Linked DNA regions of Homo sapiens: region 2 is linked to region 1. Evidence: fine-mapped expression QTL. A gene starts in region 1. The other region holds a variant in brackets. All regions are shown on one strand. Distances are from middle to middle.

Region 1 (16,473 bases):
CAACTGGAGGAGCACTTCTCTACCCTGACTCAACACTATTAAATGCAGGGCGTGGCAGTTATAATAAATGCTGAAAAGCATCGGGTGGAATGGTCTGTGTTTGCAAAAGTCTAATGAACTGGAGTTTGCAAAGGCTTAGAACTTAGGCCAAGTATAGGAGATGTGGTAAAATTTGTGTTTTGGCGGGGGATATGGTGCGGGAAAGATTTCTTGCTGGAGTTCCTCAATGTTAATTGAGCTTTTTTTCTAAATCTCTAAGGTGGTAGGAGTGATTTGAGGGGGGGAAACCCCATAAAAGACAAATGTACTAAGAAAACCTTTCGAAACCTGAATTGAGGAAATAAAATCTTAGTAGTCTTTCAATTTTTCTTGGTACATACCACAGTAAAATATTGCATCTATTTTTTGAACTATGCTTCACATTACTCTGTGCTTGCTTTTTACCCCAGGAAAGACATGCAAGAAATGCCCCTTGAAGGGTTTCTAAACGTTGTACAATGCTTACTACCCTTTCCCTCTTCCCCACTTTCAGGCCCCTGAGATGGATTCATCTGATACCAGGAGCCTCTAGGACCCAGAAATTTAACTGTCAATCAAGAGGCATGTGAGGGAAAGTCCAGCCCAGCCTGGGTGCCAGAAGGTCTGGATTCCTGGTCTGCACATTCCCTACAACTCTGGGCAGAGATCTCATATGTACTTCTGGCTCAGCTACTAACTTAGCTGTGTGGCTTTAGGTGACCCACTTAACTTCTCTGAATCTGTTTCTCCATTTGTAAAATAAAAGGTTTGGACTAGGGAATCCCCAAATTTCCTTTCAGTATAAAAGTTCCATGATTACCAGTGACCTGCTCAAGGTTCATTATTTCCCTCATGTTTAAAGCACAGAATCTTGTCCACTTCATAGGGAGGTGGTGAAAGTCTATGCACATGTGCTCAGTAAATCTTAGGCCAACACAAATGTCAGCTATCATCATTATTATAAGAATTCTTTATGCAGCTCTTTCTTCAGAACATGTTTTATATCTTTTACCATTTGTGCTAAAGTGCAATTTTTGCCTTAGAGAAATTCTCAAAATTCAGGCTTTGGTTTGACAAAAGGAGACAAGGCGTCAGTTCAGGTAGATGAAGTTGCTGCAAATGACAGCAGCATCTAAAATTTCTTAGGAAGGAAGTGGGCTAAGACCTACCCTTAGCCCCCAGAAAGACAAATTCTCCTCAATTTCATTTAGGGGCATGACCATTTCTTATTAAGAAACAGAACTCTCAAATGAGGCTTTACCCTAAGAATGAAAAGGCCTTGGAGAGTTCCAAAGGCATTAATAGTAAATCTAGGTGCTTATCTTTTGCCTTCAACTGTGCTTTTTCAAGTACTTTACCCAAATTAATTAATTAGTGCTCCTAAACCCACACCAGCCATCACTTTGCCTTTGGGATGGAGGGAGGTGATATTATCTGAGCTTTGCATTAGGAGAAAGCCCCTGGGTTGACAGTCCCTCTGTCCATACCCGGTGGAATCCTCTCCTGCCAACAGTGGCAAACTCCTTTGTTTGTTTGTTTTGAGGTGGAGTCTGTCTCTGTCACCCAGGCTGGAGTGCAGTGGCGGGATCTCAGCTCACTGCAACCTTCGCCTCCTAGGTTCAAGAGATTCTCCTGCCTCAGTCTCCTGAATAGCTGGGACTACAGGCATGCACCACCACGCCCAGCTAATTTTTTTGTATTTTTAGTAGAGATGGGGTTTCACCATGTTGGTCAGGCTGGTCTCAAACTCCTGGCCTCAAGTGATCCGCCCACCTTGGCCTCCTAAAGTGCTGGGATTACAGGCATGAGCTACCACACCCGGCCAGCAAACTTTCTTATCTCTTGTTCTCCATTCCCAGGACTCCCATGGTACCAACTCAGTACCTTGCTCAGCATCCCAGGGTGTTAGAACTGAATGGCTGCTTATGGACTCCCTGCAATGGGCACCTCCTTCTTTTACAGCACAGAAAATTGAAGCATTCAATTCACTCAGGGAGAGGAAGTGAAACACCCAAAGCAACACAGCTAGTTAGGGACAGGGTCACTACCTTGTCTTAAGAGGCGAAAAATAGGAACTATCTCCCACCCTCTCCCCTGACAAAACCAAACACTCTTTGCGCCCCTCCAAGTATCTCAATACTGCTTAAGCCTGAGGAGTACGGGGAAGATGAAGTATGTAACGTTTATCTACTCACAAAGCACAGAGTTTCTGTTGCCACCTCTGAGCAGCTGTCTTGTTCTGGGCAACTGTGATCTCCCTTCCTCTCCTAAGCTCTTGGAATGAATCTTTCTTAAGGGAAATGGAAGTTGCAATTCCATTATTCTGTATAGAGTGAGTTAAGGGGAAGGCCTCTCTCCTTTTCTGTCATCTAATAGCTAAATTAACATAAGCCCATAGGCACAGGGATTCAGGTAACAGAAACCTAGTTTGTGACAATTACAACGTGAAATGAAAACATACATTGTGGCCCAGAAGCCCGGGCAGCCCTAGGCTTCAGATATTACCTACCCTAAAGTAGTATAATGCCTTTTACCAAGAACACAGCTGAATCAACTGTGCTTTTCATAGAACAGGCACACACTAAAATATTTGTGGATTGATTTGGTAGGCAAAAATTCTTGGCACTTGGATACTTCTCCATTTTCAGCTTATTCTTAAAAAAATTTTTTTTGTTAAATGTTCAGCTGCAAAGGCACAGGTGACTAAGTGTTCAACACAGCTGGAAGGAATGTTGGTGACAGTGGCTGTCATCTATATTTCCCAAGTTGGTTTCTAAATAACACTGCTTCTGGGGTATCTTGAGAAAAAAAGGTTCTGTGTTTAAACAAGGTAGGAAACATTACTAATCTTCCTACCTTGGTCTCCCAAGACACTAAAGGCACATAGCTTATTAAAAACACTGAGAAGGCTGGGCACGGTGGCTCATGCCTGTAACCCCAGCACTTTGGGAGGCCGAGGAGGGCAGATCACTTGAGATCAGGGGTTCGAGACCAGCCTGGCCAACATGGTGAAACCTCAACTCTACTACAAATATAAATATTAGCCAGGCGTGGTGGCAGGCGCCTATAATCCCAGTTACTGGGGAGGCTGAGGCAGGAGAATCACTTGAATCCAGGAGGCACAGGTTGCAGTGAGTCAAAATAGTGCCATTACACTCCAAACTGGGCGACAAGAGCAAAACTTCATCTCAAAAAACAAACAAACAAACAAAAAACCACTGAGAAGAGTTGTGGGTAAAGAAACAGTTTTATTTTTGTTTAAACGAGTTATTTCCAAGACCATTTGACCATGGAACAATCCCTCCCACATTTTTTTTTGCATGATATCTATTAAAGTTCCACAAAATTCATGTTCTTTGGAAAATAACTTGGGAATTACTGATTGAGCCCAATTTCTGAATTTTATTGGTAAAGAAAAAGGTCCTGAGAGGGGCTGAAGTTCTTACAGGAAGTTAGTGGGGGAGGTAGGACGACAACCCTATTTCCTGAGTGTCTGGCCCAACCTTGTCAACCACACGCAAATACGGCAGCATTCTCAAAGGTGGGTTCTGGGATCCCAGCCATCATGGGTACTGCTTGAGATGATACGCAAAAAGGACATGAACGTTTTCCTCCCTAATGGGTCCTTTGGGGGCAATTTGCTAAAACATAACAGGTTGTTTTAGATGCTTCTTAAAATTGGTAATCATATCCCATTCTTTCTTTATCTCATAGAACTCGGGATGCCTACCCAACACAGCCTGATTATGCTATATGTGCTTAGTAAGTACATTCAATGAATGACTAAATGAAAGACAGGGAGGAAGAAGGAAACAGTCCAGAACTGAAAGGGATGAGAAGAGAAAAAATGTGGAGAAAGAGAAGGATGGGTAACAAAGGAGCCAGCAGTCACTGATCAGTAGAGTATAGGTGAGAGAGGGGAAAGGAGACAGCTGCAGATAATGGAAAATAACAAAACAAAACTGAGGTCTGGGAAGCTCCGATTTTAAAAAGTGAACATGAGTTATGAGACTAATTCAGATACTGGCCACACCAGGAGGCCCCCGCCCAGGAGATGAGGATGACCACCAACTGCTGAGAATCTTTGTAAACTCAAATCAAGGTGTATTTATTGCACAGGCACAATAAATGAACAAGGCATCTTAAGTACTACAATGACAGGTGAGTGGGTCAGGCACAGTGGCTCACGCCTGTAATCCCAGCACTTTGGGAGGCCGAGGCAGGCAGATCCCTTGAGCTCAGGAGTTCAAGAGAAGCCTGGGCAACATGGCAAAACCCCATCTCTACTAAAAATACAAAAAACTAGCTGGGTGTGGTGGCACAGGCCTGTAGTCTCAGCTACTTGGAAAGCTGAGGTGGGAGGATGGCTTGACCCCAACAGGTTGAGGCTGCAGTGAGCCAAGATTGCACCACTGCTCTCCAGCCTGGGCAACAGGGCAAGACCCTGTCTCAAAACAACAACAACAACAAAATCACAGATGAGTAAGACACAGGTCTTTCCCTAAACAAGGTTACAGTCTAATGGGCAGAAGGGCTAGGACAGGGACTCAGATGAAATAATGCCAGGTAGAATGTGATCAGTGCCCCTGGAGGTGTGGCAAGCCAACACTGTGAGGAATCAGCGGCAGGAAGATCATATCAAATCACGAGGCTCCAGAAAAACTACGAGGGTCCAGGAATGGTGGCTCACGCTTGTAATCTCAACGCTTTGGGAGGCAGAGGTGGGCTGATTGCTTGAGCCCAGGAGTTCAAGACCAGCCTGGACAACATGATGAAACCCTGTGTGTACAGAAAATACAAAAATTAGCTGGGCATAGTGAGCTGTGCCTGTAGTCCCAGTTACTCAGGAGGCTGAGGTGAGAGGATCGTTGAGCTAGGGAGGCTGACGGAGGTCGAGGCAGCAGTGAGCTGTGATCATGCCACTGCATTCTCCTGGGCTAAAGGGCAAGCCCCTGCCTCAATTAAATAAAACAACAACAACAACAAAATAAAAAACTACCAGGAAGGGCCATGAGGCACAGAAGGATTGCATCAGGCGGAGATAGGAGATGAGAAGAGAGACATTTCAAGGTGATATATAAAGAACTACCAGGGGGTGAGGAAGCATATGGGGAGATGTGTGGAGACACAGCCTGAAAGTCTTGAAGTCACATCACGGAGCCTTGAATGACCGACCGAGGCGCTGACACTCAAGAGAGGCAATGGGAAGCCAGTGAAGGTTTGTGTGTGTGTGTGTGCGTGTGTGTGCAGAGAAATAGTAGCATTAGAGATGATTCCCAGGCAGGGTGACTGGGCAGCCAAGGGAAAGCGCTGGCCTGTGCGGGATGAGGCAGTTGGGTTCTGGAGAGCACAAGCAATCATTCGGTGCTGCCCATCAGACAACTGAAAAATCTGATCAGAGGCAGTGGCTAAGTCCCCGCCTGGGAACACAAAGGAAGCCTAAGGTTCTGGTTATCACCCTCAGGGGACCGTGACCTTGAAAGAGTAAGGATAGTACCAGCCAAAACCAATGCAGCCAAGAGGAAAAGTCACAGAGAACAGCGAGGGGAGGTGGAAGTTTCAATACAGAAATTGTAGCCATGGCTGAGAACCCCAGCACTGGAGGCCGGAATTTGTGCGTTTGAACGCCAGAGGCTTGGCTAGTCATGATTAGCAAAGGAACTTCAAAGAGTTTTGGAGCCTGCTTTATATCTGTGAAATGGGAATTATTTCCATCTCAAAGGTTTGAGGGGATTCGCTGAGAGAAACTTCTTAGCATGGGATCTCCAGAAACTGGAAGCCACAGAGAAAGCAGCGGCCAGAGGGAGGAGGAATCGGACAGGCTGATCACTTGGAGTGTTCGCCTAAGCAGTTTCTAGAAATGGAGGCAGGGACCATCAGGAAGCTCAAAACCTTTGCTTCAGCCGAGTTTGCAGAACGCCCTGTGAGGAGAATGGGTGAGCTGGGTCGAGGAAGCTTCATCCTCGTCCCCATCCCCCAGCACTGCCCTTTTCCCAACGCTCCCATCCCGCCACGCCTCCCAACATACCCCCACCCCGACTTCCCGCTCAACTCCCGCTCCAGCCAGTCCCAGGAGCCACATGCGCATGCGCCCTCCCGCGCCCCTCCCCAACTTTCCACGTTTCACTCCTCTCCCTTTTCCTCCTCAGCTCCGGCTCCGCCGCCACGATTGGCCAGCCGACCACCCGGCCTCGGCCAATAAGCGCCGCCCTCTCGCCCCCGTGTTACTGGGTAGAAGAAAACAAAAACAAACAGAGCGAGAAGGGCCAGAGACTCTCCGAGGCGGCGGCAGAGACAGAAGAGCGGGGTCGGGGCCGGCTGACCAGGAACCTGGGCGAGCAGCGGCGGGGGCCCGAGGGGTCAGTACCAGTAGGCGCGGCTCACACGCTCGGGAAGACTGCGCCCTCTCCCCCATCCCTCCTCGGAGGCAGCCGCAAGATGGGAGGGGGCGGGGGCGGAGGCGTGGGGGTCGCGGTCCTGTCAGGTCCGGGCCTGCGGTGCGGGGGTCCGGCTGCCTTCTTGTAGCCCCGCAGGTCCAGCCGCGCCCTCCCCAACGCCCCGGACTGCGGGCATCCGGCCTGGTTCCCTCTTTCTGAGCCCAGCCTGGAGCGTGTCGGCGCGGGCCCGCCCCCTCCCGGAGCCATCTCCCCACTGAGAGGGGCGCGCGAGGCGCTCGCCCTTGAAGGTCCCCCTCAGCCCTCCTCCCCCTCTGGCGGAGGTTGAATTCGGGGGCCGGGATTGGAAGGCGTGTTTCCGGCTGGACTGAAATCCTGTGAGGAAGATTCGCGCCCTCCCCGCCCCCTGCCCTCCCTGGGAATCCTCTGAAGATGCGGCCCCCTGTCCTTCGTGAACCCGGAGCCCCGGCCTCGGCCCCGGCCCAGCCCCTTCCGGGGGCCGACCCGGGCTGGGACTTCGGGGGTCCTAGCCTGAGCCCGCTGCGGGAGAACAGGCCCGGCCGCTGTGGGGAGGGGCCGCGCGCTATCCTCGCCGGGGGCGCTGGGAGGCGAACACGTGCCCGCCGCCCCATCCCTGCGCGAACTTCGTCGCGCCCGTCTTCCGGCAAAGGGTCTCTTTTTTTTAGTTTAGGTAAAATAAAATCTCCCAGAGAAAACAAAGCCGGGAAGGGAGCCCCCTTTCTGTGAAACGCATGCCATCTTCTCCATTTGTCAGTTTGATGCTGTAACGTACATGGGGTTTTGCAAGAGCTTCAAAACTGTCTGCAGACGTCAATTTCGCCCCCCTCCCCCTTGTGAGAACTCGCTACGTAGCCAGCAACTGTGTAGTGTCTACAAATGATGAAAACGATCAGAAATGCGATTAGGTGTCGGGGAAAAAAGGGTTTCCCCTGTTTTTAACTTGTATTTTTACTTTAATTGTTACAATCTTGATATTCTTAACGTGACTTTTTTGGGAAACCACCAAGTGCTTTTTAAGCAAGGAGTTACTGGTATTTATGCCCTTAATATTCCTTCATTATAGGCTTATTGAATACGTTAATATCTCAGTAAGTGTATTTGAATTATAATTGACTGGCTTTTTCTGTGGTACTAATGTGAAAGGAAAAAATATTAGGACTGCAAAAATAAATGCCGCTTGAATATTATCTGTAGTGCTTGCTTTTGCATTACTGTAGTAGAATGCTTTTAGCTGGTTTTAAGCTGCTAATTAGCCGTTCGTAGCCGAAGAATGAATACAAGTAATCCTAGTTAATAAATGGCCAAAGCTTGACTCCCCAAAATGCCAGAGCAATTTATGAGGTATATTTCAGGAAATACATATGTATATATTTCGTGGGGGAGTGGAGGGTCTGTCTCTTAGGGAATGTCTTGGCAGTTGAATACTTCTGATTGTATATTTCGTGTAACACACTGGAGAAAAGAACAGTGTTTAATGTCAGCCTTCATTTTCTTCTAACTTGTATGTATAGTTTTCTCATCGAAAATTCATTTTTGTAGGTTAGTATGAAGGAAATAGCGTTTGGATTTTTTGCTTTATATTTTCTTGTTTGGGCCAATTAAGGGTTGTTAAATAAATTGGAAAAAATCCTACTACTTTAAAGAGCGTAAAAACGTGGAACATGTCTTATCTAAACTCTTAAAACGTGTTTGTTGCTGTCAAATATGACTTGAGTTCCTGATCGGGTTATCATTGCCTAAAGACACAGGACTATTTTTTTTATTAAGATAACTTTGTTTTTATCTTAATAAAAGAGATGATAGTCATTTCCTGACAGTTTTGTCTGACGGAATGCCTTCTGTATAATAGTTTAAAATAATTATTTTTAGTGTTTGGAAAACAGCATTTAAAAGTTTGAACAGCAGAAGTCTGTTTTAAGAAGCTTCTGTTAACCCTTGAAAAGAATCTTCCTGTGGGATATTAAAATTTTGGATTGAACTTGTGCAAACAGTACTGGATTTGGAAGGTCTGGATTCTCATCCTGGCTGTTCCACTAAGCAGCTGTCTGTCCTTGGACATATCACCTACCCTCTCTGAATCTGTTTAGTTGTGTGTAAGGTGGAATACCTACCCGAAGGTTTTTCTGTAAGGTACATTAAATAATACATGTACAATTCTTTTTGAATTGTAAAGGGCTTTATGAACATCAATTATAATCATTTCGCTTATTAGGTTCTGCAGAAAGTATTCTCTCAAAAGTTATACTTTCATCAAGAATGAAAAAGACTTTGTAATGGAACTCTAAAAAACTGAAACACGTATCATATGACATTATTCCTTTCCTATATGTATTTCATGCATGGAATTAAAACAGAATGTAGCCTTTTCAGCCATGAAGGATGCTGAGTGTTTAGATTTGCAAACCATTTTTGTTCATATATTTATATGAATCTCTACATATTTTTAAGATTTTTTTTTCATATCTAAAGTTGGCGGGAGTTATAGTGAAAAGTGATTATAAAGATTCACATATATTAATTTATTCTTAACAGAATTAGAGAATGATCTCACCATTTTCTTAAGTTCCCAAGCAATATGATAGCATATTAGTCTGAGGATTATACCATAGTAAGAAGCCTATAATTTTAACATAAGGTCCATTTGTTTTTGTTTCACAAAATAATACCGTTTTCTGAAGAAAAGGGCTATAAACTTATGTTAGCAAATAGTAGTACATAATGAGGAATTTAAAAGTCAGTTTCACCTTTGAGTCCCAGGAGGCTCTGTATATATCATTGTTATCCTAAAATGACATCTAACAGTAGGTTAAGTTATATAGGAAAAAATGTGCTTTTCTGTAATTAATTTATTAGGCATTTTCACTAATTTGTGCATTTTATATCTCTGAAGAGCACACTGCTAGCAACCTGATTGTAAATGACCAGAAGGACTTATATCCAACCTATGTGACTTAAACATACACTTAAGTACTCTAAACCACTATTTAAAAAATACTTCTAGAGAGATTCTGAAATCTTAATTTGGTTGCACTTTCTGGTAATATATTTTTTGAAAACTATTTTGATATTTCTTTCATATAACATTATTGGATCTGTATCACTAAGTTAATTGTCTAAAAGGTAACTGATTTCATCAAACCTTCCAGTATTAATAATTTTTAAGCCATTTTGAAACTGAGGCCTAAAATACTGAAATGCTTATGTCGTTGTACTTACTCCTTTCTGAAATGATCAGATTTTTAAAAAATGGATTTCTCATATAAATAATATTATCAAAAAAGGATTTCTCATATAAATAATATTATCAAAAAAGCTGATTTTAAAAGTTTCTCCCAAAGTCTTATTCTAGTAATTATAGAGACCTAGGTAATGAGTGGCAGATATATCTGCCTTTCAGATATGCCGTAATGTGAAAAATAACACAGTCATGTGATATTCTTTATTAACTAAAACTGTGTTGTTTTTATTTTGGAGTAGTTCTCATAATTCATTGGTAGGGAACTATCCAGTATTTATATTCCTATGTATGTATATCAGATTAATTTTGAGGCTTGGTATTCCTAAAAGATTTGGATGTGTGTATTTCTTTAACTTGACGTAAACATGTATCACAAACATATCTTTTAATTCCAATTAAAGGGGTGCTTTGGCACATGCTGAAATCTGGGATTTTTTTTTTTGACTTTGATAAATTTATCAAAAAGATTGGAACCAAATGTTAATTAGGGTAAGTTGTCTTTGAAAGTAAAGTGAACTGTTTTATTTAATGGAATTGTGTGTTTTTTGTTGTTGTCGTTTGTTTTTACAGTGTGCTTAAGTAAGTTTAATTCAGCTTAATTACATCAGTTTAAAAGATCTTGAAGCTTTCTTTTTTTCTTTTAAAAAAACAGATTCTGAAGGAAGATTTCCATTAGGTAATTTGTTTAATCAGTGCAAGCGAAATTAAGGGAAAATGGATGTAGAAAATGAGCAGATACTGAATGTAAACCCTGCAGGTAAGTAAGGATATCCTTTTTTCTTTTTTTCTTCGTTTTGAGACAGGATCTTGCTCTGTCACCCAGGCTGGAGTGCAGTGGTGTGATCATGGCTCACTGCAGTTTTGACTTTCCTGGGCTTAAGAGATCCTCCCCTATCTCAGCCTCCTCAGCAGCTGGGACAACAGGTGTGTGCCACCACACCAGGCTAATTTTTTATTTTTTGTAGAGATAGGATTTCACTATGTTGCCTAGGCTGAAATATCTTGAAGCTTGACTATGTTGTGAGGAAGCTTCAGACCATTCCATATTTTATAAAAACATGATAGAAAAACTATCTTTAAATACTCTTTTATTCATGCTGTAAGAAAACAGGCTATATTATTTTTAAAGTCAAGTTTGTGATTTTTATTTTCATGGAAATTCATTACATGTCCTATTTTTCTGCCTATCCTTTCACATTCCACATATTCCTATTCTCTGTTATATAGTACAGAATAGAGAAGAATAGTGAGCCTGCTTATTTTCACATGGGCTAGTTAGTGATTTCTGTAATATAAACTTACTGGTATCTTTGGTATCTTTCCTAACAAATAATTTTTATATTCTAAATTACCTAGGGTATTTTCCCTAATTCTCCATGGTGCTTCAATAGCATGTTATTATCATAAAAATGAACAGTTTTGTGGAATAGATGACCAAATGTGAGTAACTCAAGATAATTTAAAATGTATTTATAGTTTTAAAAATAATCTCCCAAAAAGTTAATTAGAATTGTGTAATATCTGAATAGTGAGAACAGTTCATATTGGTATACTTTGGATAATTCTTTGTCTTATAATTTTATTAATATTGAAAGCTATTTTCTGTCATTTTAAGTGTATTTCGTAACTAAATACTACATCTTTCTTTCCTCAGTGACTTAACTCACTATTGTTTACAATGTACATAGTTTTCTTTGATCTGAACAAACATGTTGAATTTGAAGCTTCTTTACCATTGTTTATTTACAGATCTTTTTAAAGTATGGTAAAAAATTGAAAAAAATTTATGTAATTAATGATCATTTCTGTGCTGCTGTATACAATAGCTGTATGAGTATGCTTTAGGGTTATAAATGGATAATATGTACCTACTTAATTGAGATGGGGATGGTAATACAGTTTAGAATATATTTTACATATAGGTAATTGCTTCTTTTCTGCACTGTCCAGTATGGTGACCACTAGCTACATGTGGTTATTACTCCTGGGCTCAAGTGATCCTCCCTCTTCAGCCTCCTCAGTAGCTGGATTACAGGCGTGTGCACCACTGTGCTTAGCCACATGTGTTTGTTGAGTACTTGAAATGTGGCTACTCTGAGTTGAGATGAAGGTCAACTATCTCAATAATTTGTTATATTGCTTGCATGTTGAGATGATATGGTTATATTAGATTAAATAAAATATATTTAAATTAATTTCACCTGTTTTTACTTTTTAATGTGGCTACTGGAAAATTTAAAATTTCTTATATGGCTTGCATTCTATTTCTATTAGAAATAGAAACACAGCTTTAAAATGTGTACTTTTTGTTTCCTAACTACAATAAGACCTAGTTCTAACCCTGTTCTTGGTGCTTGTGTCCAGCACTGCTTTAAAATAAAAGACTTGTTCTTCAATATTTGAATAGGCCTAAGATAGACCCTCTTTGTAGTAAATTCTTCACATAGCAAATAGTCCAAGTCACACTCTTACTCTTTTACTTGGAGGAAGTAGGTTATTCTGACCTTCAGTTTTTTCATGTATAAAATTGGGATATAAATACCCTCTGTATAGATTTATAATTAGGATTTAGTGAGATATTGTATATGTGTGTTAAGTCTGTGAAGCACATACTAGGTATGTAATACATGAAAGTGTGGTAATGTTATTCTAATTATGCCACTCATTGGACACCAGTAATTGAAAATGTGATTTTCTGGTGCTGTGGTCATATACAATTGGAGTGGTTACTATTGAGATATCAGAATTCAGAAAGAGGGAATTAGTACACAGTAGGAAACAATTTTGAAGTCAATCACATTCTGTACTCAGCTTATCATTTTAATTTTGGTTTTCTTAAAGTCAGCTCAATAGGGGTTATGGAACTCCAACAGTTAGGTGAGTATGAGTAACAAAATATAAAGCAATTAATACAAACATGGGTTAAAAATGATAAGGTCAAATATATAAATTATACTGAGAGAATGTTTACTGCTGCAGAGACACAAACATACTTGAAAGGATGTTAAAATTGTTGAAGAAAAGAAAACTCGATTATGGGAAATAGATGTATTTAAATTGAATACTCCAAGGGACAGTTTAAGACATTTTATTATAGTTCTGACTCCTGTGTCTTCTGGACCAGTTTTGTGGTTCACCTTAATGGCACAATGATGAAAGCACTATGTTACAGGTAGATGTTTAATGTTTTTCTCAACCATCCACTCTTACACGAAAATGTCATCTAATTTATGTGATCCTGATCTTTCTGTCCCCTTCCACTTAATCATTTTTGTTTATCTCTCTTTACATTCACGCCCTTGTTCGTCTCTTTAGCTGTCAATACTCTGCTGTATTCTAGTTTTGTATTTTCTGTAGTTATATGGGATTAAAAATGTGGGTTTGAATTCTAGCCATAATCCTTTCTAGATATGTAACTTCTTGTGAAACACATTCCTTCTGTAAAATGAGGATAAACAGTTTCTTTCTAGAGCTCTTGAAGCTTATAGACCACATATGTAAAGTGCCTTAGCTAATAGGTACCAGGTAGTGTGGAATCTAATAGGTACCAGGTAGTGTGGAACCTGGTATCTAATAGATGACAATAGTAATGGTAATGATGAAAGAAACAGTACTACGACTACTTCCACTAAGACTATAATTACTACTGATGGTTATGATGATGTCCCAAACACACCATCCTAACACCGGCTTCTTACCAGTTTGAAAACTTTTAAGGCATTGTTTGACTTCTCTTTAATCCTAGATACATTCTGCTTAAAAGTCCTTCATTATTTTCTTTAAAAGTGTAACATTATTATTTATCCCACAGTTACTACCCTTGCTCTTTACCAGTTAGCTTGTGACTGAATTACTGAAGCATTTTCTTAGCGGTTTCCTACTTTATACTTTCTCTTTTTGTAATATACTCAGTATTCTTCTGCCAAATGAATCCCTCCCATCTCTTCCCTATGATATCTAACTTAAGCTCTGACAATTTGAGTGTGGGAGTAGTTAGCAGTGATTCTGGTGAGGTAAGCAGGGGCAAGATCATAAAGGACCTTAAGTTACAAGGTAAAGAGTTTACATTTTGGCTGGGTGCGGTGGCTCACGCCTGTAATCCCAGCACTTTGGGAGGCCGACGTAGGTGGATCACGAGGTCAGGAGATCAAGACCATCCTGGCTAACACGGTGACCCCATCTGTACTAAAAACACAAAAAAATTAGCCAGGCGTAGTGGCAGGCATCTGTAGTCCCAGCTGGGGCAGGAGAATGGCGTGAACCCGGGAGGCAGAGCTTGCAGTGAGCTGAGATTGCACCACTGCACTCCAGCCTGGGTGACAGAGCGACACGCTGTCTCAAAAAAAAAAAAAAAAAAGTTTACATTTTTTGTGACATAATGGGACTACTTTTAAAGGATCTTCAGTGAGGGCATGCTTGAGAAAATCAGTCTTCATTCAGTATAGTTTGAAGACTGGAGGCAGGGAGACTACTTATGAGACTAGTGAAATAATTTGGCTCTAATTGATGATTTTGTTTAAAACAAAACATTCCTACCTTCCTAAGTATGTCAAGAATTGTAAAGATTTAAACACATGTATGCTTTTTATAGGTTGGTGAAAATTTTTGGTTTCAACATGTCTTAAAACATATTAAAGCCCATGCACATAGACCTGACATGTTATAATTATCTTTAGGCATATAGAAAATGATTTGAGTGATTCAGCTCTGATTTGCGTTAACAATAATGAACAAAACTGTGGCCCAGTGGTAGCTAATTCAGTAGCCTTTCTGACTTAAAGAGCTTTCAGGGCAAAGCCAAGTGCCTCCACTTGATCTCCATGGAATTTGAGTATGAAGGACACTCTGCTAGGTGATGGGGATACAAAGAAGGACATACAGTCTAGTTGTGGTTTCTCCTTTGAAGCTTATGACTTAGTTGGAAGAAAAAGACTGCTATATAAAAAGAAAGTGATTTCCATGACGTGTTGAATGAATAGTATGTGAGCAATTAGTGTTCCTGTACCTAGAGTTGTAAGGGAAGTTTTAATGCAGGGAGTAAGACTTGGGCTATATCCTAAAGGATTTTGATAACTGAAAATAACAGTGAGGGCGACATTCTACTGGGAACTCCAGTATGTTGATCTCTTTCAGAAGAATCAATTTTATATAGGCTGGAAGATTTACAGGATGGTAAGTAATAGGAGAAAAGTTTAGGGAGATGAATTAGGACTTTGAGATGTTGGCTTTTCTTGAAAGCAAACTTTGTCTTGAGGCAGTAAAGCATCAGCAGTTCAGCTCAACAATCATATGCGATTATTTGCTAAATGCCTTTCATTCTCTTTTGGATTACTAATAGTTCTTAAGTGTTTATACCTAGTTATGGGACGTTTGGCAAATCATTTAAACATTCTCAGCCTTAGTTTCCTTATCTGTCTTCAATGTTATAATAATTAACTGCCAAACTTGTGCATAAATAAATGATAGAGTGTCTAGCACAGTGCCTAATAGTAGGCATTCTATAAATATTAGTTTATCTCTCTTCTCAAGATGCTTTGTCTTTTCTTAATATCTCCAATTAGCTCATAAAAGTCTAAGGGTTTTATATTTGGTGTTGCTGTTAGCATAGATTTTATGATCTAAACGTGAAATAACATGCTTCTTTTGGTAAAAACAAACAAATTTGGTTTGTTTTTGGTAAGAAACAAACATGCTTTGTTAAAATTCAGTGCCTTGGTTTACTTTCCTTGATAATGTGAAAAGTAATCTTATTTAGTTGTTTATTAGATTGAAGTAGATGAAATTCCCAATATGTGACTGTAATTTACCTACAAAAATGGTAATGTCATGTGATTCAACCTAATCTAACTTACCACTATATCTATAAAACAGTAGATACTTAAAATACTTAGAATTTTTTTCTTCATTTTTCTCTTTAAGATCCTGATAACTTAAGTGACTCTCTCTTTTCCGGTGATGAAGAAAATGCTGGGACTGAGGAAATAAAGAATGAAATAAATGGAAATTGGATTTCAGCATCCTCCATTAACGAAGCTAGAATTAATGCCAAGGCAAAAAGGCGACTAAGGAAAAACTCATCCCGGGACTCTGGCAGAGGCGATTCGGTCAGCGACAGTGGGAGTGACGCCCTTAGAAGTGGATTAACTGTGCCAACCAGTCCAAAGGGAAGGTTGCTGGATAGGCGATCCAGATCTGGGAAAGGAAGGGGACTACCAAAGAAAGGTTGGTATATATCATGTCCAACAAATGGAAGATAAACAAGTGGAAAAAAATTGTCTGGTTCTTGTACTACACTTTCCTTGTTCTAGGAATGAGAGAGATTCAAAAAGTGAAAATGTAAGGCTTTACAGTTTGTATATATTTTTACTTAGTAATAATGTGAGAACCATCTCACTTTTTCTTTAGGTTGATGTTTTTTCTTGTTTGAGTAGATTTAATTTTCTTGAGCAGAATGTTAACGATTTATTTCCAGCAAAATATACACTGATGTTTTTCACTGTTACGAGTTTTACGTATATTCTCTAAGTTTGAAAGGAGTCAGAAATCCATCATACTTATTTAATATAATTATGTCCATTACTACTACTAATAAATATACATTTGATTGATAACGTCTAGATCTGAATTTTAATGTTTTCCTAGATCTCACGGTGAGTTCTCTTTAGCTCTTTATTTTGGGTTCTGTAGTAGATTGGTCTGTTTCACTGCTGTTTCTCTAGTACCCGAAATAGTGACTAGTACACTGTAGGCAAATATTTGTTGAATAAGAGTTTTCTGACGATTTCATCACCTTCTGAATGG
Region 2 (16,473 bases), 92 kb before region 1:
GGATGACCTCACACGGTTCATCTGATCTTTCTTGGTCTCAGTCTTCTTACTATAGACTGGAAATGGTCATATTTGACTTAGCTGTCCATATGGCTGTTCTGGAGATGAGACAGCTAATGAAGTGAGAACACTCATTAACACACCAACTGAAAAACACAAAACAAAAGAGAGATGATAGGATTATATTGCTGTTATGAATCATTCCAAGAGGTGTCATGGTGATATGAATCATCATATGGTAATGTCATGGCTAAGGCCCAAACACAGAATAGCAGCATTGACCCAGTAGTCTCGAAATTAGTCACAGAGGCCAAGCTAGTGAAGACCCAGCAGCCCTATTGTTATCAAGAAAGAGCACTATCCAAAAGGTGTGTGGCCTCATCTTCTCCTTGCAAAGAGAGAATTCATCTGGTATATGTTGATAGGCGTGTATCCGACCACAGCTACCTCCATCAGCCCTGAGGACAGAGGCAGCCTGCATTCCAGTCCCAGCTCTTCTCTGTCTCGGTGTGTGACTTAGGCGGTTTCACAGAGGACGCCAACTTCATTGGCTTTTGCGGTTTTTTGTTTGTTTGTTTTTTGTTGTTTTCTTTTTGTTTGTTTTGTTTTGTTTTTGTCTGTAGAATGAGTGAGTTAAACTAAATTGTCTGTAAGGCCTCAGCTCACTCTTAAAGTGTGATCACTAGCTAGAGTTTGAACTTTAGCCCCAATATGACTGTTGTGTTGTCATTGTCACCTTTGTAACCTGACATTCAGGAATGTCCCTCTCTAGTTCATATTCTGACCTAGCTTCTGAAAGCATTATAGCAGAGTTGAGAATTTTTGATCTAGGAAAGATAAATATTAAAAAGAAATTCCCACCAAAATACCATAAATAAGGAATGTTTTAAAGAAAAATGGTTCAGAAGGAAGGAAAACTATAATGTAGTTCTTGTTAGTTAAGTTGACATTAATCCTCTCTTTGCTTTAAGTCTCTCCTGTGTTGACACTAGCAGAATGTGTCATAAAGACATGGAAAGATCATAAATTCTCAACTCTGCTCTAAAGATCTGACCTTCAGCGTTGCATTTATTTGGCCACACCTTTATAGTGTGGTCATACCTAGAAAATATTTTCTTGCCTGGTCATCAGCCCTCTCACCTCGATTACTTTCTATATTTTAGCACAAAAGAAGAAATGGCGCATTCACCACTCAGCCAGTTGCACTGGAAGTGAATTTAAATTCCTGAACTGGTTATCTTGGAAGATATTGTGCTTATTGCAGATGTGGCCGGTGCATGAGTTTAGGCACTACCATGCTCTGGGCTGTGGTTCTTGGCTCCTGCTTCTGGATGGCTGGACATTACCAGGAGAGAGCCTGCTGATACATCTACGCACATTCACTCTACTGCACTTCAGCTGTGTCCTTGTTATTCCACAGCCCTTTAAGTCCTGGTTCACCAACCAGATGTTAAGACTCTCTTGGATCCCTCAAATCCCATCCCCATGCCTGCTGCCTCCTCTCTCAGCAGTTGCCCACTCCTTATCTTCTAATCCTCTTTTCTCCCTATGATGATGATAGTGACCCTGTAGCTCCAACTACTGGGTCCTCACAGTCAGTCCACTCCTGCAGAGGAAACTGGAGGGTGACCAGGAACCTTCAAGTCAATGTGGGCCACAGACAGGAACCGTCTTTAAAAGATGGTTAAATGCCCGTGGTTTACGTAGGTTGGCTTTCTTTAAGCAAATAAAGGAAATGCATTGCTTCATGTCCAGCAAAGTACAGGGTGGATTCAGGAGAAGCTGGCTCAAGGCATTCCTAGGAAGTCATCAAGGAGCTGCCTGTACCTCTGTCTTCAGGCCAGCATCTTCTGAGTTGGCTTTATTCTCAAGCAGGCTGTCATTAAGTGATGGCTTAACAACAATTTAGCAACCATGGCATGACAGAGAATCATGCCTGATAGCTCTAACAAAGTATCCGAGAGTGTTCCCCCATGAGCCAATCACTGTTGCCAGAGGGATGTGGTTCTTGGACTGGCCAGGTCTGAGACACGTTGCTTGGGCCCCTATTTGTGCAGAATTGGCCCCTGACTACATTCCCAGAGGGTCTTTGGATGTTTGGTCAGATGGTCTGTACTCTGGGGGGATCAATTCATACCAGCAAGGTCCAGTCAGCCCCTACACCTACCACCGCCTCTCTAGTGGAAGCCACTTTTGCATCTAATTGTCTTGGGAATTGTGTTGGTTTTCTATTGCTGCTGTAACAAATTGCCACAAATTTAATGGCTTATAATAACATACATGTATTATCTTACAGTTCTGGAGGCCATAAGTCCAAAACCAGCCTCACTGGACTACGGTCAAGGTGTTAGTTCCTTCTGGAGGCTCTAAGGGACAATCTGTTTCCTGGTCTTTTCTAGTTTCTAAGAGGCTTCCTGCATTTCTTTGGCTCATGGCCCCTTCCTCCATCTTCAAAGCCAGCAGCAAAGCATCTTCTCTCCTCTCTGACTTCTGTTTCCATCCTTATATCTTCTCGCTGACTCTGATCCTCCTGCTTCCGTCTTAGAAGGACTCTTGTGATTACATTGGGCATACCAAATTAAATTCAGAAATTCAGATAATCAAGATCTTTAATTCAATCATGTCTGCAAAGTCCCCTTTACCATGTAAGATAACATATTCACAGCCTCTGTGGGTTAGAATGTGAACATTTTTATTATTCAGCCTACTGCAGGGATTATCCACTCAATTTAAAAACCTGAACTTAGACAGAGAAAGAGTGTACTGAAGCTCCTGCATTGGAGTGGGAAATTGTAGATAGTGACCTAGGAAGGTGACTTTGTACCTGCTTGTAGGTTTAGTTTTATTTGCTTCTTGGGTGTATTTAGATTGTCCTTTTTGAGCTGTTTGTGGGTTTTTCTCCACAGAATTGGGTACTCATAAAAGAGGTGTCCATATTGCCTCAAAGCCACCAGATTCTGATGAGCCATACCCCTTATCTTCCTTCTTCATTTTGTTCACGGCAATTACTTTGTGCCCATAAAGTGGGAGGCAGTGTGCTGAGGAAATACAAGATTCTCCAAGACACACTCCTTTCTCTTGTGGAACTTATGTCTGGTGGAGTAGAAAGGCACGCACGCAATTATTTTTAACCCAAGGCACAGGATGTGCTGAGTGATATAAAAGTGACAAACTAAGGAGTGGGAAGACAGCAGGAGACATCAGTTCCAGCTTCCAGGGGTGTCAGATCATGCACCCCAATTTTTGGTTCAGAAATATGATCACTACTATATGCACCTCAATTTCAGGTTATTAACTATTGCAGGCTAAGAATTTTAGGGCTTTAAAAATAGTATGATGTGTTTTTTCTTCTTTGTCTAGGGTGTTTGGATGAAAGCAGGTGCTCAGCTCTGATGATTCATGTGAAATCACTTCTACTCAAGGTTGACTAAAGTTGGGAATGATGAAAATTTCCTAGTCAAAGCAAAAATTAAGAAGAAAACCTGGTTAGTTTTCTTATTTTTTGAGGAATCTGAATGGGTTAACGTCTGTAACCTGGGCCATACTCTGAAAAGGACAGGTTTCCCATGGCTGACCTGCAAATACCCAGCATGGCTGGCTTTCCTAGTTGGAAAGCCCTTCCTCACGTGTCCTTTCAGTGGCAAAGGGGAATCTCTACTAAGAGCTCCCTCCTGCCCAGAATGCAATTTTAGAAAATAGAGCTGACTTCTCTGGGAAAAACAAAACCAACCTTGTCTTACTCTGGTCATGGAAACCAACTTGGCACCTCATTATCGCCTTGTTAGCAAGAACAGGCTGTATGATGGACAAACCTGGGAGGAAGAGTTGGCCCTGTGTGGCCACGGTTTTGAGTTAAGCTTAATTGCTTTTCTAAAGCTCAGCTACTTAATACTACACAAGTCAAAATCTATCATCAGACTCTTGACCATCCATTCTCCTCTTCCTTCCGTATTCTTGCCTACATAGACATTGGTCGCTCCCCATTCTGCTGCTGTTGAATTTGTGCTGGGTCACCCAGGGACCCCCAAGGCTTGTTTGCAACCAGCCCGGCTCCCCAAAGGAGAACAGGGCTGTAACTACCTTTAACTTTCAGTGCCCTCTTCCCCCATATTTTAAAATGCAGCCAGCCTGTTCTGCCCTTGGAGCATAGCAGGGCTGCTGGCTGGGGAAGGTGGTGTCTTTTTAACAACTTATAGGCAATTTTTGATTTTTCATGCAAATGGGAAAGAATAACAAAGGCATTTTATCTGGCTCTCAAATGTGCTTTGTACTTACATTTAAATGTGGGTGTGCCTGATGTTCTGGGAACTCCCTTCCAACAAGACAGTGTGGCAACCCATGTCACTTGCTATGTCTCCCTTTTCCTCCTCAGCTGAGCTAGCTCCCAGCCTCTCTCGTTTTTGTTCCATTATCATTGGATTTTTACTGTACAGAACCTGTGACAGTGGAGACTAAGGTGTCCCAGTTGTGCAGTGTCTACCCTGTACTGCCTAAGCATGCTTATTGTACAGCATGCATTGTTTATGGCAACTCCAATTTCCAGTTTTCCAGTCCCCTTCTTCCCATTCAAATGTCCCAGAATTCCAGTTCATCAACATCCTGAACATATTTCCTGATGACACCCACTTTTCAGAGGGGAATTTAAAACCTGGAAAATGTGGTCTTAACCAAAGATTCCCTCCCTGCCTGTGGTAACCACATATCCCAGATGTTCTGGGAAAGTCTTTCCAGTTTCCAGACCATGCACACTGATTTTTGGTCCAGAAACCACTATAACCAACCAATATAGGTCACATGAAAGACACATGTCAGACGGACACCCTTTCTGCAGTAAGATTCGGTGAGAGTCTGCTATTGTCCCCTACCTCAAATTCAGATTTTTTTACTTGTAATTTTTTGGTTATTCCTTATACTAGTTAGGTTTGAGAGCTCAGTTGAAGGGAACTGTGATATTGTGAGATTTGGTCTTCCTCAGGTTTCCTAGCATAAAACTCCAAAAGTCTTTGGAATCGGATAAATATCTTTTTGTATGCTAATAAGCTGACAAATGTCTGGCAGCCCCTTAGGTATCTTTAGGATGGGGTCTGGTTACTGGAAAGACCACAGCAGGATGGAAGGGTTGGGACTTTCAGCCTCACCCCTAACCTCAGGGAAGGAGAATGGGGCTGAAAGTAGAGTTGATCACCAATGGCCAATGATTTAATCAAACATGCCTGTGCAATGAAACCTCCGTAAAAACCCAGAAAGGACTGGGACATGTGGAGGTTCCTGGAGAGGGGGGTGCCCGAGAGGATGTGGGAGCTCTGTACCCCTTCCCAAACACTTTGCCCCATGCACCTCTTCCATCTGGTGTTCATTGGCATCCTTTGTCATATATCCTTTCTAATAAACCAGTAAAACTAAGCATCTCCCTCAGTTCTGGGAGCCTCTCTAGCAAATTAGTCTAATTCTGATTTACAGCCAGTTGGTCAGAAGCATGAGTAAAACAACCTGGGGCTTGTGATTGACATCCAAAGTGGGGGGACAGTCTTGTGGGGCTGAGCCATCAACCTGTGGGATCTGACGCTTTCCCCAGGTAGTGTCAGAACTGAATTGGCAGACACCCAGCTGGTGTCCACTGCAGAACTGGTTGCTTGCTTGGTGTGTGGAGAAAACCTCCCACACATCTAGTGTCAGAAGTGGTTCGTGTTGTGAGAGTATAGGAGACGCTGAATTTGTTTGTGCCTATATTCAGACAGGAAGACAATTCATGTTACTTTTGGATGTGAAATGAGGACAAGGATGAAAATGTGTTTGGCACAAATGTAAACACGATTCACTCTGTAGGCAATTGTTAAGCCTGCCTTTTTCACTTAACATTAGAGCATATAGATTTTCTCATGTCATTAAAGTGGTTTTGTTTTTGTTTTTTTGTAACAGAGACTTTGGCAAATTCAAGATAATGTTTACCATTGGCAATCACGGGGAAGGGTGAGGTGGGGGGAGCACGTAACCAAGGGAGATTTATCGTATTGGAATGCTCTCTGTCTTAAGCTTGGTGCTGTGTACTCTTTTTTGAATGTCCTAAATGTTACATAATAAAGTAGAAATTTGAACACCAATAGTAATGGTTACTTAATATTTTATTATGTTGGTGTATCATAATTTCCTCAGTTCAAATCCCATCTCGCTATTGTTGGATATTTGTAATTTTCAACTTTGGACTCTTAAATAGTATAGTATTAAGCATCTTTGGGTATCAAATTTTGTCTGCATTTGAGCTCATTTTCTCAGTTTTGATTTATATAATTGAATTCCAGGGTCAAAGAATATGGCTATAATAAATGCATTTTGTTAGACTATCTTTTAACAAAGCTGTATGCGTTGATTATCATTGACATTGTGCCTATTCTACTCTCTCTCCAACACGGAGTGCCATTTTAAAAAATTGCTATTTTGCTAGGCAAATATTTGTTTTGAATGGTTTTAGTTTATGTTTCTACTTACTAGTGAGATTGAACGTTCTGTCATATAATTTTTCCATTGGAGTTTTTTTTTTTTTTTTTAATGTGTATGTGTGAGCACAGGTTTTTGCAGATTCACTTGTATGTGGGACCAGTGTGGGAAGGTCTTGTTTATGTGGGAGGGGGGACCACAGATAACAAAGAACAGCCCCTTGCCCCCCTCATTGAAAACCAGCTGTGCATCTAGACCTCTGTCTTCCCACAGTGCCGCCAAGCTCCTGGACAAGAACCCATTCTCGGTCAGTAACCCGAACCCTCTGCTTCCTTCACCTGCCAGTCTCCAGCTGGCTCAACTGCAGGCCCAGCTCACCCTCCACCGGCTGAAGCTGGCACAGACAGCTGTCACCAACAACACTGCAGCCGCCACAGTCCTGAACCAAGTCCTCTCCAAAGTGGCCATGTCCCAGCCTCTCTTCAATCAACTGAGGCATCCGTCTGTGATCACTGGCCCCCACGGCCATGCTGGGGTTCCCCAACATGCTGCAGCCATACCCAGTACCCGGTTTCCCTCTAATGCAATTGCCTTTTCACCCCCCAGCCAGACACGAGGCCCCGGACCCTCCATGAACCTTCCCAACCAGCCACCCAGTGCCATGGTGATGCATCCTTTCACTGGGGTAATGCCTCAGACCCCTGGCCAGCCAGCAGTCATCTTGGGCATTGGCAAGACTGGGCCTGCTCCAGCTACAGCAGGATTCTATGAGTATGGCAAAGCCAGCTCTGGCCAGACATATGGCCCTGAAACAGATGGTCAGCCTGGCTTCCTGCCATCCTCGGCCTCAACCTCGGGCAGTGTGACCTATGAAGGGCACTACAGCCACACAGGGCAGGATGGTCAAGCTGCCTTTTCCAAAGATTTTTACGGACCCAACTCCCAAGGTTCACATGTGGCCAGCGGATTTCCAGCTGAGCAGGCTGGGGGCCTGAAAAGTGAGGTCGGGCCACTGCTGCAGGGCACAAACAGCCAATGGGAGAGCCCCCATGGATTCTCGGGCCAAAGCAAGCCTGATCTCACAGCAGGTCCCATGTGGCCTCCACCCCACAACCAGCCCTATGAGCTGTACGACCCCGAGGAACCAACCTCAGACAGGACACCTCCTTCCTTCGGGGGTCGGCTTAACAACAGCAAACAGGGTTTTATCGGTGCTGGGCGGAGGGCCAAGGAGGACCAGGCGTTGCTATCTGTGCGGCCCCTGCAGGCTCATGAGCTGAACGACTTTCACGGTGTGGCCCCCCTCCACTTGCCGCATATCTGTAGCATCTGTGACAAGAAGGTGTTTGATTTGAAGGTGAGTTGTCCAAGACAGGCTGGGAGCCACAGCTAGAAGCCTGGGCAGGCCTTTCCCCATGACCCAACTCACGCTGCCAATGGGCAAGGAACTGTTGCATTGGGGTAACAGAATTTTGCCATCAGTATTCTTGACTAAAATCACAGGTATTAGGACCCATAGGAATTTCAGAAATGTATCAGGACCAGTCCCTTGCTTGAAGGTGAGTCAGAAATTCTTACACACTTTTTCTAGATGAGAAAGCTGAGGCTGAGTAGGGGAGCAAAGGACCCCACCTGGGTTGCAGAGAGAAGGGGCTCAGGAGTTTCCTGCCTTCTCGTGGAGGGCTTCTCCCCCGTAGTATGCCTAGAATCTACTGCCCCTTGAGTACCCATATTGTAGTGAGTTAGAAAAGAAAAAAAGCAGAATTTTGGATCAGGGGAAACAGATTAATTCCCCCTTGGGACCTAGACAAATTATTATAGAGAGCCTCAGCTTCCCCATCAGCAAAATGGAGGTAGAGTCTCATGACACCTTCCCGGTGGTTGGGAAATGCTTTGAGTTCCTGCAAACAGAGGTATATGATAGTATAATGTCCCCCCAAAAAATGTATTGCAGATGCAGTGAAATATTTTGAAGCAATAACAATTATAACAAATACCATATATTAAACCCTTTCTGTGTGCCAGCAGTAACTCTTATGAGGTAGATATTATTATGATTTTCATTTTACAGATGAGAAAACTGAGGCCCAGAGAGATGAGATGACTTACTCAGCCCCTTCTCCCCGCCACCTCCCCAGCTTGAAAGTGGCAGAGTGGAGATTCAAATGTGGCCCTGACCCTTTCAGAGCCTGCACCATTTAAACACTGGGCTGTCCTGCCTCCCATCTCTCATCCTGTCCAAAAGCATAATAATGTCCTTGCAGAGTGTGAGTCACACTGCAGCATGTCATTCACCTCTGTTTGGGTCACACCATCCAAGTGCATCCCTGTGACCCAGATAGGACATGCCCTCTGACCTCTAGTCTTGGGAGGGGACTAGCTGACACGGGGAGGTGCTCAAGGATTTTGTCTCTCATGAACCTTTTCTAAGGCTTTGTAAGTCACTGTGAGTCTACCTGCCAGATTCTCCCAACTGGATATGAAATAGGTGGGGTCTTCCTGGGGGAAAGGAGAAGGGGTGGGAGGTGGGAGGTAGGTGGTGGGGGCAAGGGTCCATTGAGAGGGGTAGAGGGAATCCAATTTGTGAGTCTGGGCTCCTGTTCAAGATGGGCATGAGATGTATGGATGAGGAGCTGATGGAGCAAAGGCTGGATGGGGAGGCAGGAACAGTGGGAGGAGCCTGGGAGGGAGAGAGGAAGGGTGGAGGGATGTGTCTGCAGGGGTGGTCCAGCCTCTGGGCGCTCTGTGCTCCCTGCCTGACCAGTGTCTCTGTGCTCATCCTTTGCCTTCCCATGGACTCAGTTCTACTTTGGTCACTTTTCTTTCCTTCTGACCTAGGACTGGGAGCTGCATGTGAAAGGGAAGCTGCACGCTCAGAAATGCCTGGTCTTCTCTGAAAAGTAAGTGCTGTTCAGGAGGACAGGCTCATGCGTAGGCTCAACACATATTCACTGAGCATTTACTGTGTGTCACACGCTGTTTTGAGTCCTGGGGCAATAGCAGAGACCAGAACAGGCAAAGTTCCTGCCCTCAAGGAGCTTGTGCTTCACAGGGGCCAGGGAGATGATAAACAAAATGAACAAGAAAATTACAGCATCCCTGGTGGTAAATGCTAGGCAGAAAACACCAGGCAGAGGCCGGAAGTGCGTGTGTGCGTGGGCGTGTGCCTCCCTTTTCTGGCTTTCATTTTTTTCATTGTAGTCAAGTTCACATAGGGCTTACTATTTTAAATACTTTGAAAATACTTTGAAGTATACAATTCAGTGGCATTTAGCACATTCACGACATTGTGCAAATGTTACCACTCTCTAGTTCCGGAATATTTTCATTACTCCAAAAGGAAACCTCATACTCATTAAGTAATCACTCCCTATTCCCCCTAAGCCAGCCCCTGGCAACCACCAATCTGCCTTCTGTCTCTACGGATTTGCCTGTTCTGTACTTTTCTGTAAATGGAATCATATGATATGTGGCCTTTGGTGACTGGCTTTTTCTTTTTTACTTAGCATAACATTTTCAAGGTACATCCATCCATGTTGTAATATGTACAACCTTTCTATGACTGAACAATATTCTATTGCATGTATATATCACATTCTTGTTTATCCATTCATCTTTTGATGGACATTTGGATTGTTTCCACCTTTTGACTATTGTGAATAGGGCTGCTAGGAAGGTTTGGGGACAGTTTTTGTTTGAACACCTGTTTTCAACTATTTGGGGGTCTGCACCTACGAGTGGAATTTCTGGGTCACATGCTAATTCTTTGTTTAACTT[A/C]TTAAGGAGCCGGTTTCCCTTTCTCGCCCTCTCCAGTGCTGGCATCCGGTGTATACTTGGTTCGGCAGAGGGAACATTGTGTGCTTCTCCCAACAGCACAGCTGTTTATAACCCTGCTGGGAATGAAGGTGAGCAAGGCCCTACAGGTCAGCAGCTTGAAGCAGAAGTGGGCTACCCACAGGCACATTATGTCCTGTCTTTAATAACCAGGACTTCCCTGATGTCCCCTTCTCACGGATGTAGAAAGCAAACAGATCCCAAGACACTAAAATGCATTGGGCCTGCTGTCTGGGCCCATCAGTATTCTCTGAGATACTTGAGACGTAAAGCTTTGCTGATTATCAGCATGTCCAGAGGTACAATCATGCCAATCACTAATAATATGTGAAGGGGAAAGGTTCAGTTTTCTATGCCTGCTTATGTCCTAATAATGACTTTTGATGTTACATTCTGGGTTTTCACTGACTTTGTGTAATTCATCATTTAGATTATGCCTCAAATCTTGGAACATCATACGTGCCCATTCCAGCAAGGTCATTCACTCAGTCAAGCCCCACATTTCCTTTGGCTTCTGTGGGGACAACTGTGAGTACGGAAACATTTTCTCTAGAAATTAATGAAAATGATTATTAGTTTATTTATTTGTTTGTTTATTTGAGACAGCCAGGCTGGAATGCAATGGTGCAATCATATCTCACTGCAGCCTTGAACTAACTCCTGGTCCCAAGTGATCTTCCTGCCTCGGTCAACCAAAGTGCTGGAATTACAGGTGGCCAAAGTGCTAGGATTACAGGTGTGAGCCACCATGCCCTGCCTCAAATACCTCTCTGTGTGCCAGTCACCCTGAAATGCTTGTTGCTTTCCCCAGCACTGTGTTCTTCATGCTCAGTATGCACCTGACATGCCACAGGCTGGGAGGATGTTAACACTTTTTTTAGTGGAGAGTTGGCTGGCTTTTGAGGTCTAGACCCATTTATACCTGGTACCCTTCAATTTTCCACTCTGGGAATTACACTTCTCTAGTTTCCAAGATGACATGACCAGAAGTGAGGTGAGCATGTGACTCAGGCAGCCAAGGAGATCATCACACTTTCTGGCCATAGATTGGTTCATGAATGGTGTATGCCTGTAGTCGCAGCTACTTGGGAGGCTGAGGCAAGAGAATCACTTGAACCCGGGAGGCAAAGGTTGCAGTGAGCCGAGATCGCACCACTGCACTCCAGCGCAGGTGACAGACCGGGACTCTGTCTCAAAACAAACAAACAAAAAAACCATTTTCTCCATTGTCATTGTTGTTGTCAAGCGTTTGTAGTATCACCTGCTATATCTGGGCCTAGAGGTGCTGACCTGGCTTTGTGTCATTCAGAAAAACAACCCCAGACAGAAGTGAAGAGCTGTTTAATCCAGTTCATCTAGTATTGAAACACATGACTTAAGAAGCAGACATAAATCCTTAAAATTCAAGGCATTCCTGGACTTTCTAGCATTCAGCGCTGGCTTAGAAAAAAAAAAGTTGGAGCTTTTTATGTTTTTTTAAGACTATTTAATGTTTTATGGAAGTAGATTATTTCCTATGAGAGGGTAATTTTGAAGCTTGAACCAGAAAGTGTGTGAAAGTAAGGACTACGCACCAGTAGCATTTGTTGGCCCCTTGAGGAACTGGTTTGTGCTGTATGATGTTTTTGTTTGTTTTTAGTTTTGCTGTCTCTGCAACATACATTTTCGTCCTCCAAAGCTCCTAAGCTTCATCTCTCCTTTTTCACCAACGGTGACAGCTCCTCTTCTCTCTGGGGTTTCAGTTGTTTTGTGCCACCACCCTACACCCCCATCTGACCTCTTCTTCTCCTCTGGGCAGGAGAAAGGGGAGTGGGAGGAAAACTGACTGTAAAACAAATGCATTTGTCTGAACCCTGCTGGAGGGCACCTGTTTGTGTGCCTTAGCCTGTGCCTGTGCTTTTGTGGTGTGAGTTGCTGCAGCCTCTTTCTCTCTTCTCCTGCGAGTGAACACAAGCTCACAAGAGCATGTCTCCACGTGCTGTCCCCTCTACGTGTTGGCATTGCAAAGCATCAGGCCAGTAAGCTGTGAAGTGCAGCTCTCAGGCTCTGAGGAGTGAGTAAGCGGAAAAGCGAGGTGGTTCATGATGAGACGTGAGGCCTGCCTGAGCCCAGGCTTCTGTTTATTTGTGTGTGTTGATCTGTGATGTTGAATAGGAGAAGCGCTTCGAGAGAGCCCCTGTCTGGAAGCCCACATTTTGGTGAAAGAGAATTTTGTGGTTTCCCTCTCTGCACTCTGCTCGCTCAGAGCCATGCCCAGGTCAATGGCAGCTTCGGGTCAGTCCCAGGAGACTGCAATGGCTAGATTCAGTGAGGCCTGTCCTCTGAGGTCAGATTCCTGGTAACATGACCTTGTGTCCTGATGGGGGTGTGGGCCATGGAGGCACCTCTGTGCTCACAACCCTGCCCTGAGACCCCACTCCAGGCACTGAAGGGGAGGAACTGTGACCACGATGGGGGAGGCTGGATTGAGTGTCAGGTGGGCAGGGGGCAGGGCTTGTAAATTGACTCCAACCTGGGGTCTGGGTACGGGGAAGAGATGGCATTAACTGAGCCCCTCCATAAAGGGGGGTGGATGGGGAGAGGAGAGACACAGGCAGGACATTCTGCAGTCTGTCCCAGGCCTCTTCCCCACCCTCCAGCGCTGCCCATTGAGCCAGAGACCCTTTCCTATGGACTTGGCTCTAGGGACCTAAGTTCAAGTCCTACTTTGGGAGCCACTTGCTGTGTGTCTCCAGGCAAGTCACTTTACTTCTCTGAGGCTCTGTTTCCTTAAGTGGGAACAATAATGCCTTTGGAAGATAAAGTAAACAACTGGATTTCCATCCAGCTTGTGTAATTTATTGTTTTGATTATTCCTCGAATCTCAGAACATCCCATGCAGCTCTGCAGCCCAGGCTTCTGGTTCAGTGGCCAGCGCCAGACAGTGGGAGCAAGGCTTGGGATAGATCCAGTATTGTCCTGCCCTTGTGAGGATCAGATGAGATAATATCAGGGACAATGATTTGGGAACCGTCAAGTACATATGAAGTAACCATGGCTGTTCTTGAGTAACGAGCGCTTTTAACCCATTTTGGCTGTGAAGAGTCGGGGGGAAACCCATGCTGTCTAAGGCTGGCTCTGTCTGCTGGCCATAGGATTTTGTCCGAGTCTTGGTATCAGTGTTCCCCTTACACAAATCTGTCTAGTAATACCCAGGGTCACACTTGCTCCACCTTAGAGATGTTTTGAGGTTCCCATGGATGTACTTTTAAATTACGTACCAGTGGGCAAGCACAAGCTATCTGATGATTTGTGTGTTGATTCTAATTAATTCCTCGAAGCTCTGAGTGCCACTTCCTCCGAACACCTAGAGATGGGGAGTTTATCTGGCTTGAGCCTGGTGAGAAGCAACGCAGGAAACATTTTGCTAGGAGCTAGGAGGGGACAGAGACCTAGGGGACAGCTCTCTGCGAGGAGCTAGGAGGGGACAGAGAGCTAACATTTTGGGAGCTAGGAGGGGACAGAGAGCCCCAGTCATTGTAGGATGATAATAAAAACAACAGCCAACATTTATATAGTACTCAATATGTTCTTAGCATTTTTGTTTTGTATTAGCTCATTTAGTCCTCTAGACAACCCCATGAGGTGGATACTATTATTATCCTTATTGTACAGTTGGGAAACTGAGGCCTAGAGAAGCTTAGTACCTTATATGAGGCCACATAGCTGGTAAATGGAGGTGGTGGGATTTGAACCTAGGCAGCCTAGCTCTGGAAGCCTCATTTGTAACCACTAAGCCCTGCAGCCTCTCTGCGAGGATCTGAGGGGTCTCTTCCTTGCTGTGATCCTCCTCTTTAGTAAGCCCCTCTCACCTCCCCCTCTCCCTACCCCACAAGCCGCTTGGGAGGTTCTGAGGCTGCGTTGCAGGTGACAGGGACTTCTCTGGCCTTGGCCACCCATGGAGCAAGATGAAGAGGCCAGCCACACCTGGTATCCACATTCTTCTGCACCCTGACAGCATCTGCCAAGATGAACTCAGATGTTTGGAGGCCTTTTCTACAGACCCAGTGGAAGGGGAGAGTCAGCATTTGTCTGGTTTTATCATTATAACCTCTGTGACATCTTGCTGGTCACATGAGCCTCCTCAAGCCTATCTGAGGGACAAGGACAAAGCCTGCCCCAGCCAACCCCTACATTGTCAGTGGCTTGATGTTCATTCACATCCTTCTGTCAGACGCTGGTCCCCCGGTTTGCCATTGCCAGCATATGGAATTGAATGCAGGTGTATCTGTCTTGAGGAAAACCTGAAATGCGAGAACATTGACATTTGAAGACAAGCTGAGAAATGGAGAAATGATTAATCCACTCTTGAAAAATACTTTGCAAGTCTCCTTTAAGTAGCAGAAGAGTCCCTCAGAGAAACTATTGACTTTCTTTCTGCCTACAAACACTGACCTCCAAAGATATCACCCCAAAGATAAGGGGTGATTACTCTGTTGCCAAAGGATATTTTTCCAGTTTCCAATGAATGCCCAGTGAGTTGTTTTTGCATATACATTTCTAATGTTTTTCTGCTTACAAAACTTATGCTTATTGTGAAAATGCAAACAGAAAAGAAATACTGAGGGGAATGAAATTCCCCGGTTGTCTCCCTTTCAGCCCTCACAGAGATCCCATTTTCCTCCACAAGTGAGGTCTGGTCCTGCGCCAGCACTTTGTATGTCTGATTCCATTTACATGCATCTTTTCAGAAACACTTTTTTTTGAGTAAAACCAGGAACAGCCAGGATCCTGCCACTGTCTGATCATATCACTAATGTCTGTGGAGCGAAGAGCAGTTACTGCCTCTAAAGCTCCCTGTTTTTAAGCAAGAGAAGACCAAAGTGACACGGAGCTCTGGAAATGAGCCTTCAGATTATATCCGAACTGCCACAAAATCTAAAAGGACCGCAAAGACCATCTGCCACTGCCACCAAGCCCTTCTGGGGACAGACTTGGCTGCATTTAAACTTCTCCCACCTGTGTTGGAGTCTGAGTGTTTCGTTGCCTTGTTTGTTTATTTATTTTTGTTTAGGTTTTTTTTTTCTCATTTTCTTTTCTTTTCCTTTTTATTGTTATTTATTTATTTATTTATCGAGACAGGGTCTCGCTGTGTCACCCAGGCTGGAGTGCAGTGGCATGATCATGGCTTACTGTAATCTCCACCTCCTGGGCTCAAGCGATCCTCCTACCTTAGCCTCCAAGTAACTGGGACTACAGGCATGTGCCACCAGACTCAGCTAATTTTTGGAGAGACAGGGTGTCGCCATGTTGCCCAGGCTCGCGTGTTTATATTTGACAGAGACGGGACACTGCACTGACAGTTGTATGCTGTGTTTGCTGTTGGTAGGGTGATTTGTGTCTGTCCTCAGCCCCTCCCATCCCACTCTAGGGTCCCCAGAGATAGGTGTTCACTTTCACTTAAGCTCCTGCCATTTGAGGCCAGGCACTTTCTCCTTGGCTGACTGAGTCGTCATAAACAGAGTAATCAGGTTTCTGGAAGGGGCCTTGGGGCTTTCTCAGCCTGTTAGTAGTTTTTGTGTACCTGCCCGAGGTGCACTTTCTCTGTGTCTGTCCCTGTAAAGCCACCTTGCAGTTTTCACAACCATCTTGGAGTTTATTTAGTGCCAGTGTCACAGATGGGCCACCCTGACCTGGGATGATACACATCGTTTTTATTATTTATTTCTCGCCAAGACCCTGCACATTGGGGAACTTGTATAAATAAGGAAATGGAGGCTCAGGAAAATAGAAATGTCTGTGGAAGGCCAGAGGTGTAAGTCACAGGCTGCAACTCTGATTACTGGCTGTTTCTGGAACACCATCTGTCTGCCCTGGCCCTCTGAATGCATGGCTTAGAGCGCTCTGGTCTCCTGACTTCTTTGAGCATGAGGACTAGTAATTGATGTGGCATATACTACCAGCCGCCTCCCCACCATTCCAGCTCTGTCATTGCTCCTGTCCCTCCAGCAAGGGCCACCTTGTGCTTTTTCAAAGAGAGCAAAGAGGAGGAGACAGGAGACCTGGGTAGGTTTTGTTTTGGAATTTGTTCTTTTTACAAATCTTACTTTTTCTTGTTGGAAAAGCAGTGTGAACATTGTGTAAACAATCTTAGCAGTAACAGAAATATAAAAGAAAAGTCAACTTTGCAGAGAAAACAGAAGTTAAATGCTTTTGTTATAAGTA

Alleles and levels. Alleles are on the strand shown, and positions count from the first base shown. SD is a standard deviation of normalised expression in the study named.
In carriers of allele C in region 2, the expression in subcutaneous fat of the gene that starts at base 6,287 in region 1 tends to be lower than with A alone (small effect, 0.20 SD a copy in GTEx).

Evidence for each region. PIP is the estimated chance that this variant, and not a neighbour inherited with it, causes the effect.
Region 2: its variant is fine-mapped to the expression of PDCD4 in subcutaneous fat (GTEx, PIP above 0.99).

The regions. Positions count from the first base shown.
Region 1 is chr10:110,865,642-110,882,114 of GRCh38, forward strand. PDCD4 (programmed cell death 4) reads left to right here and starts at 6,287. Exons shown (of 12, transcript NM_014456.5): 1 at 6,287-6,377; 2 at 10,325-10,429; 3 at 15,592-15,894. The coding sequence starts at 10,387. PDCD4-AS1 (PDCD4 antisense RNA 1) reads right to left here and starts at 5,263. Exons shown (of 1, transcript NR_026932.1): 1 at 3,249-5,263. LOC124902500 (a long non-coding RNA gene) reads left to right here. Exons shown (of 2, transcript XR_007062288.1): 2 at 533-807. RefSeq lists enhancers at 1,908-1,957, 4,785-5,395 and silencers at 2,078-2,147, 6,400-6,449, 6,480-6,629, 6,840-7,039.
Region 2 is chr10:110,774,093-110,790,565 of GRCh38, forward strand. It overlaps RBM20 (RNA binding motif protein 20), which reads left to right. Exons shown (of 14, transcript NM_001134363.3): 2 at 6,709-7,792; 3 at 9,274-9,335; 4 at 10,249-10,340; 5 at 10,700-10,797. Among named protein-coding and RNA genes, the nearest start is that of PDCD4-AS1, 89 kb to the right of the region's middle. RefSeq lists enhancers at 391-1,590, 481-670. The variant A/C (reference allele first, on the strand shown) is at 10,213.